2 separate regions of the Homo sapiens genome follow, and region 2 is linked to region 1. A link means that fine-mapping ties the variant in region 1 to the expression of a gene that starts in the linked region. Tissue or cell type: whole blood. Region 1 holds a variant in brackets; the other region holds the start of a gene. All regions are shown on one strand. Distances are from middle to middle.

What was found. PIP is the estimated chance that this variant, and not a neighbour inherited with it, causes the effect.
Region 2: PTPMT1 starts here. The variant in region 1 is fine-mapped to the expression of PTPMT1 in whole blood (TOPMed, PIP above 0.99).

The regions. Positions count from the first base shown.
Region 1 is chr11:47,639,620-47,647,722 of GRCh38, forward strand. MTCH2 (mitochondrial carrier 2) reads right to left here and starts at 2,940. Exons shown (of 13, transcript NM_014342.4): 1 at 2,760-2,940. The coding sequence starts at 2,846. RefSeq lists a silencer at 2,861-3,130. The variant A/G (reference allele first, on the strand shown) is at 3,433.
Region 2 is chr11:47,560,721-47,568,823 of GRCh38, forward strand. It overlaps PTPMT1 (protein tyrosine phosphatase mitochondrial 1), which reads left to right and starts at 4,879. Exons shown (of 4, transcript NM_175732.3): 1 at 4,879-5,076; 2 at 5,186-5,266. The coding sequence starts at 4,903. It also overlaps a transcript of CELF1 not described here. RefSeq lists enhancers at 4,390-4,890, 4,891-5,391 and silencers at 4,701-5,180, 5,311-5,390.

The DNA of each region.
Region 1 (8,103 bases):
CCTGAGGTCAGGAGTTCGAGACCAGTCTGGCCAACATGGTGAAACCCTGTCTCTACTAGAACTAAAAAATTAGCCGGGCGTAGGGGCGGGCGCCTGTAATCTCAGCTACTTGGGAGGCTGAGGCAGGAGAATCACTTGAACCCGGGAGGCAGAGGTTGCAGTGAGCCGAGATTGTGTCACTGCACTCCAGCCGAGGCCGACAACAGCGAGACTCCATCTCAAAAACAAACAAACAAACGAACAAACAAAAAAACACAGGCTGTCATTAACAGCTAATGAAGTCCATTTTATATAGTTAATGATTACCATGGTCTTTGTACAATATACCCAGGATTTTTAACACTACAGATACTTGACAGAATGAATGCTGTAGGACATAGTTTTGATTATTGTTGTGACTCTTAATCTGTCCTATTAAGTAACTCCTGGGCTGGCGTGGTGGCTCATGCATGTAATCCCAGCACTTTGGGAGGCCAAGGTGGGCGGATCACCTGAGGTCAGGAGTTCAAGACCAGCCTGGCCAACATGGTGAAACCCTGTCTCTACTAAAAACACAAAAATTAGCCAGGTGTGGTGGCGGACACCTGTAATCCCAGCTACTCAAGAGGCTAAGGCAGGACAGTCGCTTGAACCTGGGAGGCGGAGGTTGCAGTGAGCCGAGATTGTGCCATTGCATGCCAGTCTGGGTGACAAGAGCAAAACTCCATCTCAAAAACAACAACAAATAAATAAACAAATAACTCCTGTCTGAGCTCCCTGAAAGTGCTACCAAGTAACCATTTTTATTTTTATTTAGTTACTTATTTATTTTTTGGAGACAGAGTTTCGCTCTTGTCGCCCAGGCTGGAGTGCAGTGGCACGATCTAGGTCACTGCAACCTCCATCTCCCAGGTTTAAGCCATTCTCGTACCTCAGCCTCCTGAGTAGCTGGGATTACAGGCACCCACCACCACACCCAGCTAATTTTTGTATTTTTAGTAGAGAGGGGGTTTTGCCATGTTGGCCAGGCTAGTCTTTAACTCCTGACCTCAGGTGAACCGCCTGTTTCAGGCTCCCAAAGTGTTGGGATTTACAGGCGTGAGCCACCGTGCCCGGCCCAAGTAACTATTTTTACAACTGAGCATTTGGGAATTTCACCAAAACTCCTGGGCTACTTGGCAACACATAGATGTTGTGAAATCAGAATTAAGAATATTCAAAGTTTTTGGGGCAAGAGCTCTGAACATCATTAGAAAACCCCGTCTCCCAGAGAAGTATTGAGTAGTGGGTTCTTTTTTGTTTTGTTTTGTTTTTTTGAGGCTGAGTTTTGCTCTGTTGCCCAGGCTGGAGTACAATGGCGCGATCTCGGCTCACTGCAACCTTCACCTCCCGGGTTCAAGCGATTCTCCTGCCTCAGCCTCCCGACTAGCTGGGATTACGTGCACGCACCACCACACCTGGCTATATTTTGTATTTTTAGTAGAGACGGGGTTTCACCATGTTGGTCAGACTGGTCTCAAACATCGACCTCGTGATCCGCTCACCTCGGCCTCCCAAAGTGCTGGGAAGGCGTGAGCGAACGCGCCCGGCCCCAAGGGTTCTTACTATATACTGCAACATGCTGTCACCTCCGATGCTATCTAGCCCCAAATGTGCCAATTCTGTTTTGGATGTTACAGTACATTCTAATCAGTCTTTGTTCTAAGTACAAAGAATTTATTTGCAATAGCCTTTAACATATGGAATCTGAATTCACACAGGTCTACTCAGCAAGAAATAATTTGGATTCCCAACAACTCAAGAATAAGAAATGGGGCCCTCTCTAGTGTCTTGCCTATTTTTTACAGAAAAGTAGACGGCGAGACAGGGGTTCTAAAAACTGTTCCATTCCTAGGCACAGTGCATGAGGTAATTATGTCAACTCTCAGTAAAAGCATAAAAAAAAGAATGACCTGCCCATTACAGGGATATAGCAAAGGAACTGGAAACACTAAGTCTATCACTTACTTGGCCTACCTGCATGTGAATATAAAATACCATGTAATAATTATTTGACAGTAGATTAGAAACTAACTCCCATGTTTAAACTCGCTAAAACTCAGCTTCACTAATTTCCAGCTCTGACAAATGTGATTTTCATTGTCAGGAGCCACATGGGCCGCTGCTGGAAAGCGCTCAATGCATCCTTCCGAAATCTGACAGAGCAACCCCTTCATTAACACTTCTGAATGAGCTCCTTGTGTTTCTCTCAGTATCTGGTGCGAAAACCTCGGAACAGAAAAGCAGTAGTAACAGTAGCATAAAAAGAAAAAAAAAAGGAATAAAAAATAAAATGTTGGTTCCCACCTAACTTCACATTTGTCTTCAACTGAGTATTTCGTGTTTTGCGTCTGAGATTTTGGGGGGAGTAGTGGTGAATGTGAATTTCGGAGGGGCGAGAGGGAGGGTTCGGAAGCCTTTGGTGGCGACCGGCCAGGATCCACCTCAGTGACGAAGAACCAAAGTTCAGAGGATCCGCCGGGCAGGGCAGGGCCGGGTGGCGGTTGGCTAAGGGAGGAGAGGGCCTCAACGCTGGGCGGCGAGGCGAGGGCTCGGCGAGGCCCCCAAGCGGGGCCGCGGGACTGAGGAAGCTGTCCCTGCGGGGAGGTAAAGGGCAGCGGAGGAGCAGCAGCATCTCGGGAGAATGAAAGGCCCGCAAGGCTGAGCCGATCCTCAGGCGCCCTGAGCAGCAGCGACCGAACGGGGCGCCGGGCGGGGTAGGGAGCGGCGACGCCTCATACCTGGATGAGCACTTTCACGTACATGAGCGGCTGGGACAGGATGGTGAGACCGGAGCCCAGGAGCACCTGACTGGCCGCGTCCGCCATGATGGCACCCGCGGGCGGACGGACAGACAGACGGAGCCACCAAGCGACCCGGTGAGCCGGTCCTAGGTCACGTGCCAGGGCCGCCGGTTTCACTGGCCCGCCCGCGGCGCGCGCGCACGCACGCAGCAGCACGCGCCTCTCCGCCCAGTCCCCGCCCCCCCGTCCCGCCCCGAGAAACGGCAGGCGCTCGCGAGGGGGCGCTGAGGTCGGGGCGGGGCTTAAGGGACAGAGGCGCATGCGTTCTGCCGGGGGCTCGCCCTTCACCAGGAATGACGGTTTCTCTTGCACATGCGCTTCCAGGCCGCAAGTGTCCGGAAACAGAAGAATGGGAGTGTCAGTGGGGGAGTGTGACCGTGACGGCAGAGGCAAGGTCAGAGGACTGAAAAGAAATTGAAAAGGATTCTTCATTATGCTTCATCTCTGCACTTGCCTTTTGGGCATCATCAACATAGGATTCAAAAGATACTCAGCATCAGAGCCGTAACAGTCTCGTGACTGACAAACTCTAAATAAGTATAGCAAATAATGAATCCGCTAGCGAGTGGCTTTTCATTCATTTATTCGTTTGATTAATGTTATCTTTTCA[A/G]AAAAACCTTCTCTGACCATTCTAAAATTACCTCCCCCTTTTCTTTTTCTTTCTTTTTTTTTTTTTTTTTGAGACGGAGTCTCGCTCTGTCACCCAGGCTGGAGTGCAGTGGCCCGATCTCAGCTCACTGCAACCTTCGCCTCCCAGGTTCAAGCAATGCTCCTGCCTCAGCCTCCCTAGTAGCTGGGATTACACGCACACGCCACCACGCCCGGCTAATTTTTGTCTATTTAGTAGAGACGGGGTTTCACGATGTTGGCCGGGCTGGTCTCAAACTCCTGACCTCGTGATTCACCCGCCTTGGCCTCCCAAAGTGCTGGGATTACAGGAGTGAGGAGCCATCGCGCCTGGCCACCTCCCTCTTATTTTCTCCCACATTGTGCCCCGTCGTAGCATTATCACTGAAATTATGTCTCCTCCACTGGAATGAAAGCTCCATGAGTTCAGGAACCGTGACAGCCTCTGTTCACGGTTGTGTTTTCAGTGCCCAGCACATACGAGGTGCTCAATAAATATTTATTGCACAAGTGAACAAATACTTCAGTGCCTACCAGTCTACAGGCTATCAGAGGCAAAAGTGAAAAAGGCATTGTCCCTGCTCCTTCAGCCCCAGCTCACGTGTTCTATCAAACAACATTTGGTGAATCTGAGCTTGGAGCAGAGTGAAGTACTGTAGGGGAAAGACTTGGATTTGGATCCTGGCTTTTCCACTGCATCCATTTGTCATTTTAGCTACTTTAATTTCCAGTTTTTGTATCTAAATCTAACACTACTGTGTATCTCTCAGGGTTATTATGAGCATTAAGTGAAATTATGCATAGGAAAGGGTTTTTTTTAAAAAACTTTATATTGAAATACAGATATTGGCTGGGCACGGTGGCTCACACCTGTAATCCCAACACTTTAGAAGGCTGAGGTGGGTGGATCACCTGAGGTCGGGAGTTCAAGACCAGCCTGACCGACATGGTGAAACCCCATCTGTACTAAAAGTACAAAAATTAGTTGGGTGTGATGGCGGGTGCCTGTAATCCCAGCTACTCGGGAGGCTGAGGCAGGAGAATCGCTTGAACTCGGGAGTTGGAGGTTGCAGTGAGCCAAGATTGCGCCATTGCACTCCAGCCTGGGTGACAGGGCGAGACTCAGTCTCAAAAGAATAAATAAATAAAAAATAAAGTTGTAAGAAACAAGTTGCTTCTAACTGAATCTAGAAACATAAAGCTGAGCCAGAGAGACTATTTAGCAGGGGATTCTTTTCTTTTTTTTTTTGAGACAGGGTCTCTCTTTGTCACCCAGGCTGGAGTGCAGTGGTGCAATCTCGGCTCACTGCAACCTCCACCTCCTGGGCTCAAGCGATCCTCCTACCTTAGTCTCCCAATTAGCTGGGACCACAGGTGTGCACCACCATGCCCAGCTATTTTTTTTGTATTTTTAGTAGAGATGGGGTCTCGCCATGTTGCCCCAGGCTGGTCTCAAACTCTTGAACTCAAGTGATCCACCTGCCTCCCAAAGTGCTGGGATTACAGGTGTGAGTCACCACACCTGGTTGGATTATTTATTCTTGGATTTGTGCATTGATGGTGCCAAATAATATTGCCTTGTCCCACTGATGCTAGTGAGCATGGGGAGGCACAGAGCCTCTTGCCAGGGGTGGGTGGTTGGGGGATTCAGTCTGCTCCACAATATTTTCCAATGGTGTGAGGCAGAAGCTGCTGATGAGGTTTTGGGAAGAATCTGCAGAGAATAGGTAACCGAAGTCAGCAGTATAGATAAGGGAAGAGGTGCTATGTACAGCTGCCTAGGCTGTGCACTGCATAACTCAGAGTGGGGCCAGTCACAAAGACTATGATCTGAATGGCATTCCCTGATACAGTTCAGTATGATGACCCTAAGATGGGTTATATTTGCTGACCCATATTGCAGTGGTGAGAGGAATAACGGAAGTCAAAAGGGGCAGAATTAACTGGGAAGGAAACAGAACTAGAACAGCATGTCACTGAAGTCAACAGAAAAGTTTGGAAAAAGAAAGGATAGTCAATATGTCAAAAGCTTCCAAGAGGTCAATAATGAAGCCCAGAAGCCGGGCGCGGTGGCTCACGCCTGTAATCCCAGCACTTTGGGAGGCTGAGGTGGGCGGATCACCTGAGGTCAGGAGTTCAAGACCAGCCTGACCAACATGGAGATAACCCATCTCTACTAAAAAACAAAATTAGCCGGGCGTGGTGACACATGCCTATAATCCCAGGTACTCGGGAGGCTGAGGCAGGAGAATCGCTTGAACCCGGGAGGCGGAGGTTGCAGTGAGCCGAGATCATGCCATTGCACTCCAGCCTGGGCAACAAGAGTGAAACTCCATCTCAGAAAAAAATGAAGCCCAGGGAAGGCTGAATGGATTTACCAGTTAAAAGCCTCTTGGGAGCAGGGCACATGCCTGTAATCCCAGCACTTGGGTGGATTGCTTTGAGCTCGGGAGTTTGAGACCAGCCTGGGCAACATAGTGAAACCCCGTCTCTGCAAAAAAGAAAAAAAAATTAATTGAGCATGGTGGCTTGCACCTGTAGTCTCAGCTTCTTAGGAGGCTGAGGTGGGAGGATTGCTCGAGCCTGGGAAGCAGAGGTTACAGTGAACCGAGATTGTACCACTGCACTCCAGCCTGGGGGACAGAGTAAGAGCCTGTCTTGAAGAAAAAAAAAAAAGTCTCCTGGACTGGGAGGCGGTCTGACTTGGGAGAGAGATCACGTAATTGTCCAGTGGGTTCTTCCTGCCTGCTGCACAGACAAAATCAGTTCACTGAGACTGTGGCATTACAGTAAAGAAAGAGTTTAATTAACACAGTGTGGGCCATGTGGAAGAACTTAAGTTATCGCTCAAATCACTCTCCCCGACGGCTCAGAGGTGAGGGTTTTTCAAGGATGCTTTGGTGGCAGGGGGCTCAAATGGGGAATGTTGATTGGTTGGGGATGAAATCATAGGGGTATAGAAAGCGGTCCTTGACAGCCTCTGGATGGAGGCCACAGGACCAGATGTCATGAGTGGTGGGTCTGAGTGGAGTCAGTAGCCACCAAAACATCTCAAAAAGGCAATCTTAGATTCTATGTTAGTGATGTTATCTCTGCCAGGTGTGATGGTTTACGTCTGTAATCCCAGCATTTCAGGCAGAGGTGGGAGGATAGTTTGAGACCTGCCTGGGCAACACAGCAAGACCCCATTTTCCACAAAAAGGAGAAAAATAAAAAGACCAAAAAACCTCAAGTAATTGAAAAACGTCGTAAAAGGCCAATCTTAAGTTGTACAATAGTGATGTTATCTATAGGAGTAATTGGGAAAGTTACTCCTATATCTCGTGATCGCCAGAATAATGACTAGCTATCGTTTAACTGGGCCTGTATCTTAGCAAAATTCAAGCCCCTGTCTTAATCCTAACCTGGTCCAAGGCTGTCCAGGCTGGTCTTGAACTTCTGTGCTCAAGTGACCCTCCCACCTCGGCCTCCCAAAGTGCTGGGATTACAGGCATGAACCAGCTTACCCAGCCGGCATATATTTATTATATTTATTTTGCCTTATAGGAAGACCTGAGTTCAAGGAGCCTTCTGAGTTGGATGAGGCTGTGACACAAGAGTCTTACCAAATACCTAGATTCTTTCCATCCCTGTGCTCTTCCTCCTTAGGCCGGTATCAAAATAGTTTTGAGCCTCATATGCAACACTGATAGTCAGAGGAAGAAGAGAGAAGGGTTTTTGTTTCTGTTTTTGTTTTTTTGAGACAGAGTTTCACTCTTGTTGACCACGCTGCAGTGCAATGGTGTGATCTTGGCTCACTGCAACCTCCGCCTCCCGGGTTCAAGGAGGTTGCCTCAGCCTCCCGAGTCGCTGGGATTACAGGCGCCCAACACCACGCCCAGCTAATTTTTGTTATTTTTAGTAGAGACGGGGTTTTGCCATGTTGGTCAGGCTGGTCTCGAACTCCCAACCTCAGGTGATCTGCCTGCCTTGGCCTTCCAAAGTGCTGGGATTACAGGTGTGAGTCACCGCGTCCAGCCTTCGAGAAGGTGTCTTTTTAAAAATAGTTCTCTCTTTTTTGGCACACCAAAGCTCATCACAAAATGGCTCTTTTTTTTTTTTTTTTTTTTTTGAGACGGAGTCTCACGTTGTCACCCAAGCTGGAGTGGAATGGCACGATCTCGGCTCACTGCAACCTCTGTTCCCAGATTCAAGCGATTCTCCTGCCTCCTCCTCTTAAGTAGCTGGGACTATAGGAATGTGCCACCATGCCTGGCTAATTTTTTTTTTTGTAGTAGAGACGGGGTTTCACTGTATTAGCCAAGATGGTCTCGATCTCCCGACCTCGATGATCCGCCCGCCTCAACTTCCCAAAGTGCTGGGATTACAGGCATGAGCCACCATGCCTGGCTCTCAAATTGGCTCTTTTTGGAGGAAGAAACCTTTTCTCAGAAACCTCCCCAGCAGAATTCTCATGAATTACTGGACAGGAGTCACCCACCACCACCTAAACCAATGATTGGCTTAGACTAGTGGTTCTCAACAGGGTTAATTTTGGCCCTCAGGGGATACTTATCAAAGTCTGTGTTAGGGCTCCAAAACCAATACCCCAAAATGTATGGTATTTTGACATACTGAACTGAAAAAGCATCAAGGTCTCCCTGGCTTTCACCCT
Region 2 (8,103 bases), 79 kb before region 1:
ATATGCATTATACCTCAATAAAGCTGTTCCCAAAAATAATGTTAACATTGGAGGGGGGTGGGCATAATGGACTCTCAGTACTATTTTTAAAACCTTTCTGTGCATCTAAATTATTCCACATTTAAAAGTTTATTCTGGCTGGGCGCAGTGGCTCACGCCTGTAAGCCCAGCACTTTGGGAGTCCGAGGCGGACAGATCACGAGGTCAGGAGATCGAGACCATCCTGGCTAATATGGTGAAACCCCGTCTCTACTAAAAATACAAAAAATTAGCCGGGCGTGGTGGTGGGCGCCTGTAGTCCCAGCTACTTGAGAGGCAGAGGCAGGAGAATGGCATGAGCCCGGGAGGCAGAGCTTGTATTGAGTGGAGATCATGCCACTGCACTCTAGCCTGGGCAACAGAGTGAGACTCTGTCTCAAAAAAAAAAAAAAAAAGTGTATTTCGCTGGGTGAGGTGGCTCAGGCCTGTAATCCCAGCATTTTGGGAGGCCGAGACAGGTGGATCACGAGGTCAGGAGATTGAGACCATCCTGGCTAACACGGAGAAACCCATCTCTACTAAAAATACAAAAAATAAGCCGGGTGTGGTAGCGGGCGCCTGTAGTCCCAGCTACTTGGGAGGCTGAGGCAGGAGAATGGCATGAACCCAGGAGGCGGAGCTTGCAGTGAGCCGAGATCGCACCACTGCACTCCAGCCTGGGCGACAGAACGAGACTCCGTCTCAAAAAAAAAAAAAAAAAAAAAAAGTTTATTCCACAAAGAGACACCACACCCACTAAAATGGCTATAATGAAAGACAGATAATAAGTGTTGGCAACCATGTGGCAACATTGGAACCCTCCATACTCTCCTGGTGGGGATGCAAAAAGGTGCAGTCCACTTTGGAAAACTGACAGTTCTTCAAAAGGTTAAACACTGTACTACCCTATGACCTAACAATTCCATGATTAGTCAAATATACAAGAGAAATGAAAACCTATGTCCGTAAGTTGTATGCAAATGTTCCCAGCAGCATTGTTCAAAATAGCCAAAAGTGGAAACAACTCAAATGTTCATAAACTGATAAATGGAGAAAAACATGTGGTCTGTCCATACATTGAAATATTATTTGGCAATAAAAAGAAGGACAGTCCTGATACTTGCTACAACATGGACGAACCTTGAAAACATTCTAAGCATAAGACAGGTATCAACACACAAGTGATATCTATTAAGAAAAAAAAAAAGCTGGGCGCAGTGGCTCACACCTGTAATCCCAGCACTTTGGGAGGCCGAGGCAGGCTGATCACCTGAGGTCGGGAGTTCGAGACCAGGCTAACCAACATGGAGAAACCCCGTCTCTACTAAAAATACAAAATTAGCCAGGAGTGGTGGTGCATACCTGTAATCCCAGATACTAGGGAGGCTGAGGCAGGAGAATTGCTTGAACCTGAGAGGCGGAGGTTGTGGTGAGCTGAGATTGTGCCATTGCACTCCAGCCTGGGTAACAAGAGCGAAACTCCATCTCAAAAAAAAAAAAAAAAAAGTTGGGTGGGGTGGCTCACACCTGTAATGCCAGCACTTAGAGAGGCTGAGGCAGGCAGATCGCTTGAGTCCAGGAGTTCGAGACCAACCTGGGCAATATGGTGAAAGCCTGTCTCTACCAAAAATACAAAAATTCGCCACCAGGTGTGGTGGTACGCACCTGTGGTCCCAGCTACTCAGGAGGCTGAGGTGGGAGAATTGCTTGAGCCCAGGAGGTAGAGGTTGCAGTGAGCTAAGATCACACCATTGCACTCCAGCCTGGGCAACAGGAGTGAAACTCTATCTCAAAAAAAAAAAAAAAAAAAAGCAGCCAGATACAAAGAACACATATTGTATGACTCCATTTATTTGAAATACCCTAGGCTGGATGCAGTGGTTCAGACCTGTAATCCCAGTACTTTGGGAGGCCAAATCAGGAGGATTGTTTGAGCCCAGGAGTTCCAGATCAGTTTTTTTTTGTTTTGTTTTGTTTTTTTTTTGATATGGAGTCTCACTCTGTCACCCAGGCTGAAGTGCAGTGGCGCGATCTTGGCTTATCACAAACTCCGCCTCCTGGGTTCAAGTGATTCTCCTGCCTCAGCCTCCCAAGTAGCTGGGATTACAGGCGCCCACTATTATACCTGGCTAATTTTTGTATTTTTTTAGTAGAGACGGGGTTTCACCATGTTGGCCAGGCTGGTCTCAAACTCCTGACCTCAGGTGATCTGCCTGCCTCTGCCTCCGCCTCCCAAAGTGCTGGGATTACAGGTGTGAGCCACTGTGCCCAGTCCCGAGATCAGTTTGGGCAACATAGTGAGACCCCATCGCTACAAATAATAAAAAATTAGCCAGGTATCGTGGCACACGTCTGTAGTCTCAACTCCTTGGGAGGCTGAGGTAGGAGGACTGCTTGCACCCAAAAGGTCGGGGCTACAGTGAGTCATGATCACGCTGCCACTGCACTCTAGCCTGGGTGACAGTGAGACCCTGTTTCCTAGAAAAAAAAAAAAGAAAAGTAAAAAGAAGAAATGCCCTCAACATGCTAAACATGTAAATCTATACAGTCAGAAAGCAGGTTAGTAGTGTTTGCCTAAGGCTGGAGGATGATTGGGAGAAAATGGTGAGTCTCTGCTAATTCATAAGGGGCTTATTTTGAGGGCAATGAAAATATTCTAAAATTAGGCTGGGTGCGGTGGCTCATGCCTGTAATCCCAGCACTTTGGGAGACCAAGGCGGGTGGAACACCTGAGGTCAGGAGTTCAAGAGCAGCCCGGCCAACATGGTGAAACCCCATCTCTATTAAAAACACACACAAAATTAGCCAGGCATGGTGGCGGGCACCTGTAGTTCTAGCTACTGGGGAGGATGAGGCAGGAGAACTGCTTGAACCCGGGAGGTGGAGGTTGCAGTGAGTGGAGATGGCGCCACTACACTTCAGCCTAGTCAATAGAAGGAGACTCCGTCTCAAAAACAAAATATAAAAAAAAGAAAATGAATCTTTTAAAACCACCAGATGGGCCGGGCATGGTGGCTTATGCCTGTAATCCCGGCACTTTGGAAGGCCGAGGGGGACGGATCTCCTCAGGTCAGGACTTTGAGACCAGTCTGGCCAACATGGTGAAACCCTGTCTCTACTAAAAATACAAAACTTAGCTGGGCGTGGTGGCAGCTACTCGGGAGGCTGAGGCAGGAGAATTGCTTGAACCTGGGAGGCAGAGGTTGCAGTGAGCTGAGATCACGCCATTGCACTCCAGCTTGGGTGACAAGAGTGAAACTCTATCTTAAAAACAAACAAACAAACAAAATCTCCACCAGATGCTTGGGCCGGGCGTGTGGCTCATGCCTGTAATCCCAACACTTTGGGAGGCTGAGGCTGGCAGATCACCATAGGTCAGGAGTTCAAGACTAGCCTGGCCAACATGGTGAAACCCCATCTCTACTAAAAATACAAAAAAAAAAAAAAAAAAAAAAAGAAAGCCGGGCGCGGTGGCTCATGCCTGTAATCCTGGCACTTTGGGAGGCCAGGGGGATGGATCACCTGAGGTCAGGAGTTTGAGACCAGCCTGGTCAACATGTTGAAGCCATCTCACTAAAAATACAAAACTTAGCTGGGCGTGGTGACATGTACCTGTAATCCCAGCTACTCGGGAGGCTGAGGCAGGAGAATTGCTTGAACCTGGGAGGCAGAGGTTGCAGTGTGCTGAGATCACGCCATTGCACTGCAGCTTGGGTGACAATAGTGAAACTCTGTCTCAAAAACAAAAAACAAAAAACAAAAACTCCACCAGATGCTTGGGCCGGGTGCAGTGGCTCATGCCTGTAATGCCAGCACTTTGGGAGGCTGAGGTGGGCGGATCACCTTAGGTTCGAGACCAGCCTGGCTGACAAGGTGAAACCTCGTCTCTACTAAAAACAAAAGTTAGCTGGGTGTGGTGGCATGCACCTGTAATCCCAGCTACTCAGGAGGCTGAGGCAGGAGAATCGTTTGAACCCGGGAGGCGGAGGTTGCAGTGAGCTGAGATCTTGCGACTGCCCTCTAGCCTGGGCAACAGAGTGAGACTCCGTCTCAAAACAAACAAACAAAAAGTAAATAGCTGGCATTACAACCATTCTTCTTACCTTTTTGTAGGTTGCAGGTTTTATATTTGAGCTCTTCATAATATTTTTCTTAAGGATATATTAATATAATGTATATTTTCCTATTTTTTCCTGCTATGTAAACACTGCTGTTTGGTCAGATGAAGGAGGGAGCCCTGCCCTAGGACAGGGGAGGGGAGGAGGAAGGCGACCTCAACCCAGGACCCCTGTTCACCCTGGGATCAGGCCCTCACCCAGGTAGCTCCTCTGTTTGAAAGCTCTAAGCCCTTCCACTGTCCTCTTCAGGGCTACCCCGCCACACAGCCTCTCCTTGTCTTGTCTTCCCTTTGGCGGGGTCACACCCGCACCTGGGTCACTGCCCCCTTCCTCTGGTCGAGGGTTGGGGGGAGTGTCCCCTCCTCCCTCGGCCGGAGTCACAGTTCCACACGCAGGGGTCCTTCCTGCCCCTCTCACCTGGGGTCACAACCCCCCTCCCTCGGAGGAGGGAGGTCACCGGCCACAGGCGGGGGCCTCAGTTTCCCACGCTACAGGGCTCACACGTGTCTGGCCTGCGACGCGCTCTCCCTTCGCCGGGGTCCCAGTTTCCCGCCCAGGAAACCTCGGTCCCTCCTCCGAGGCCGCCGGGCCCTCCTCCAGAGTCCCGCCAGTCCCCCAGAGTCCAGGCCAGTCCCCGCCGTCACCCGGTGCGAGCCCGCGAGAGGCCTAGTGCAGCTGGCAGCCCCGCCCCGGCACCCGCCTGCTCTTCTCGCGGGTCCGGACCGCGAGCGCGGGGGCCGACGGGTCGCCGCTGCGCCGGGCCGGGATGGCGGCCACCGCGCTGCTGGAGGCCGGCCTGGCGCGGGTGCTCTTCTACCCGACGCTGCTCTACACCCTGTTCCGCGGGAAGGTGCCGGGTCGGGCGCACCGGGACTGGTACCACCGCATCGACCCCACCGTGCTGCTGGGCGCGCTGCCGTTGCGGAGCTTGACGCGCCAGGTGAGCCGGGCCGGGGAGCCCGGGCCCCTGCCCCGTCCCCGCCGCTCCGTCCCTGTCGGGCCGCTGGGGTCTCCACCGTCTTTGCTGAGCCACCTCTTTGCCTCGGCAGCTGGTACAGGACGAGAACGTGCGCGGGGTGATCACCATGAACGAGGAGTACGAGACGAGGTTCCTGTGCAACTCTTCACAGGTGAGGGACCGGGCCGAGGGGCAGGCTCGGGGGCCCGCTCCCCCTCGCCCACCGCCCTGAGCCTGGGACGGCTAGAGAAGTGTGGGGGAGGTCACCATGCACCGGAGCCAGGTGTCTCAAGCTGCTTTGCCTCCGGTCTGTGCCTCTAAATGGCACCTGGAGGTAGGCTAGAAGCTGTGAAAGGCGTTTATTTAAAAGTTCAAGTTGGGCCGGGCGCGGGGACTCACGCCTGTAATCCCAGCACTTTGGGAGGCGGGAGGAGGAGGCGGGCAGATCACTTGAGCCCAGGAGTTCCTGACCAGCCTGGGCAACATGGCGAGGCCCCCGTCCCTACAAAAATACAAAAAGTAGCCGGGAGTGGTGGCGTGCGCCTGTACTCCCAGCTACTTGGGAGGCTAAGGCAGGAGAATCACTTTAGCCCGGGAGGTGGAGGTTGCAGTGAGCCGACATCTCGCCATTGCATTCCAGCCCAGCCTTGGGCGACAGGAGTGAAACAATGTCTCAAAAAAAAAAAAAAAAAAAGTGGAAGTTGACAAAGCCTGATTTCTCCTTTGTGAACAAATGTAATGTATTCTTATTTCGGTAACCAAAATCAGAAACTAAAATTGAAAGGCAACTTTCCCATGCCTTCCTGATTTCATTCATTCTTTCTATACTTTGAGCTCTGAGTATGGGTCAGCATTCCCAGTGTTAGGGATTCCAGATGAAGGCCCTGCCAACTGTAAGACGAAAAGCACCCCCTTAACACTCTCCCCTCCCCAGATTTTTCATAAAACTATCCATTGAAAACTGTAGAGTTCATTTGGCTCTGATTTGGGGGAATTTTTAGTCATATATTAGAAATCATGGTGGAACTCCAAAGTTCTCTCATAACAAAGTTTAGGCCTAAAACATAACTTTCATTAAATGTGACTGGCCTGTTTGTGGAATCTTCCACAATGGTTATTAGAAGATGTTATCTACAATCTGAGCTATTTGATTTTTTTTTAATGTTGCCCTATCTTTATAGCGTTTGGCATCTAATAGCACTAAACAATTATCTTTCTCATTTGTTTTACTGATATAGCATGATGAAGATACTATTATTTCAACCTGAGGATTTTTTTGAAACCTTGAAAATATTTGTGACTTGGCCAGGCGTGGTGGCTCTCACACCTGTAATCCCAGCACTTTGGGAGGCTGAGGTGGGTGGATCACCTGAGGTCAGGAGTTTGAGATCAGCCTGGCCAAAATGGTGAAACCCCGTCTGTACTAAAATCACACAAAAAAATTAGCCGGGCGTGGTGGCAGGCGCCTGTAATCCTAGCTACTTGGGAGGCTGAGGCAGGAGAATCGCTTGAACCCGGGAGGCAGAAGTTGCAGTGGGCCGAGATTGCACCACTGCACGCCAGCCTGGGCGACAGAGTGAGTCTCCGTCTCAAAAAAAAAAAAGAATTACTGATCTTCATTTAGAACCATAAAGTCTCTGATACTCATTATTAAGAGGTTAATAACAAGAGTAGCTGGAGCATATCTGAAGTCTTAAAGCATAAAGTTTGCCCAGTTGCCAGAGACCTTATTTCTATTTCTTTTCTTTTTTTTTTTTTTTTTTTGAGATGGAGTCTCACTCCCTTGCCCAGGCTGGAGTGCAATGGTGCAATCTCAGCTCACTGCAACCTCTGCCTCCCAGTTCAAGTGATTCTCCTGCCTCAGCCTCCCAAGTAGCTGGAATTACAGGTGCCTGCCAGCATGCCTGGCTAATTTTTGTATTTTTTATGGAGATAGGGTTTTGCCATGCTGGCCAAAGTCGTCTCGAACTCCTGACCTCAGGTGATCTGCCCACCTTGGCCTCTCAAAATCTGGGATTACAGGCGTGAGCCACCACACCTGGCCACCTATTTCTTCTAAGTGATAACATTGCACTAATGAAGGTCAGTGCATTGTTTTAATTTTATTTTTGTTTTTGTTTTTGAGACGGAGTCTTGCTCTGTCGCCTAGGCTGGAAGTGCAGTGGCACGATCTCGGCTCACTGCAAGCTCCGCCTCCTGGGTTCATGCCATTCTCCTGCCTCAGCCTCCCAAGTAGCTGGGACTACAGGCGCCTGCCACCATGCCCGGCTAATTTTTTTGTATTTTTAGTAGAGACGGGGTTTCACCGTGTTAGCCAGGATGGTCTAAATCTCCTGACCTCGTGATCCGCCCGCCTTGGCCTCCCAAAGTGCTGGGATTACAGGCATGAGCCACCATGCCCGGCCCATTGTTTTAATTTTAAAATGATAACCCTATTTTCTACCATATGTTCCCTCAAAAAACAGTGGTAAAAAAGAGACTTATGGACAGAGAAATAGAAAGCCTTGGCAAAATATTGTACCCCAAATCTGCAGCTGAATCACTACACAGGTGCCAAAATTATGCAAAAAAATTACACTGGCTGGGCCTGGTGGCTCATGCCTGTAATCCCAGCATTTTGGGAGGCTGAGACAGGAGGATGGCTTGAGGCTAGGAGATTGAGACCAGCCTGGGCAACATAGCGAGACCCCCATCTGCACACACACAAAAATAACAAAATTAGCCAGGCACAGTGGCATGCAGCTGTAGTCACAGCTACTTGGGAGGCTGAGGTGGGAGGACTGCTTGAGCTTAGGAGTTTGAGGCTGCAAGGAGCCATGATTGCATACCACTGCTCTCTGACCTGGGTGACATAGCAAGATCGTGTCTCTAAAATAAAATATATATATATTTTTGAGATGTTGTTTTGCTCTTGTCTCCCAGGCTGGAGTACAATGGTGCGATCTCTGCTCACTGCAACCTCTCCCTCCAGGGTTAAACAATTCTCCTGCCTCAGCCTCCCTAGTAGCT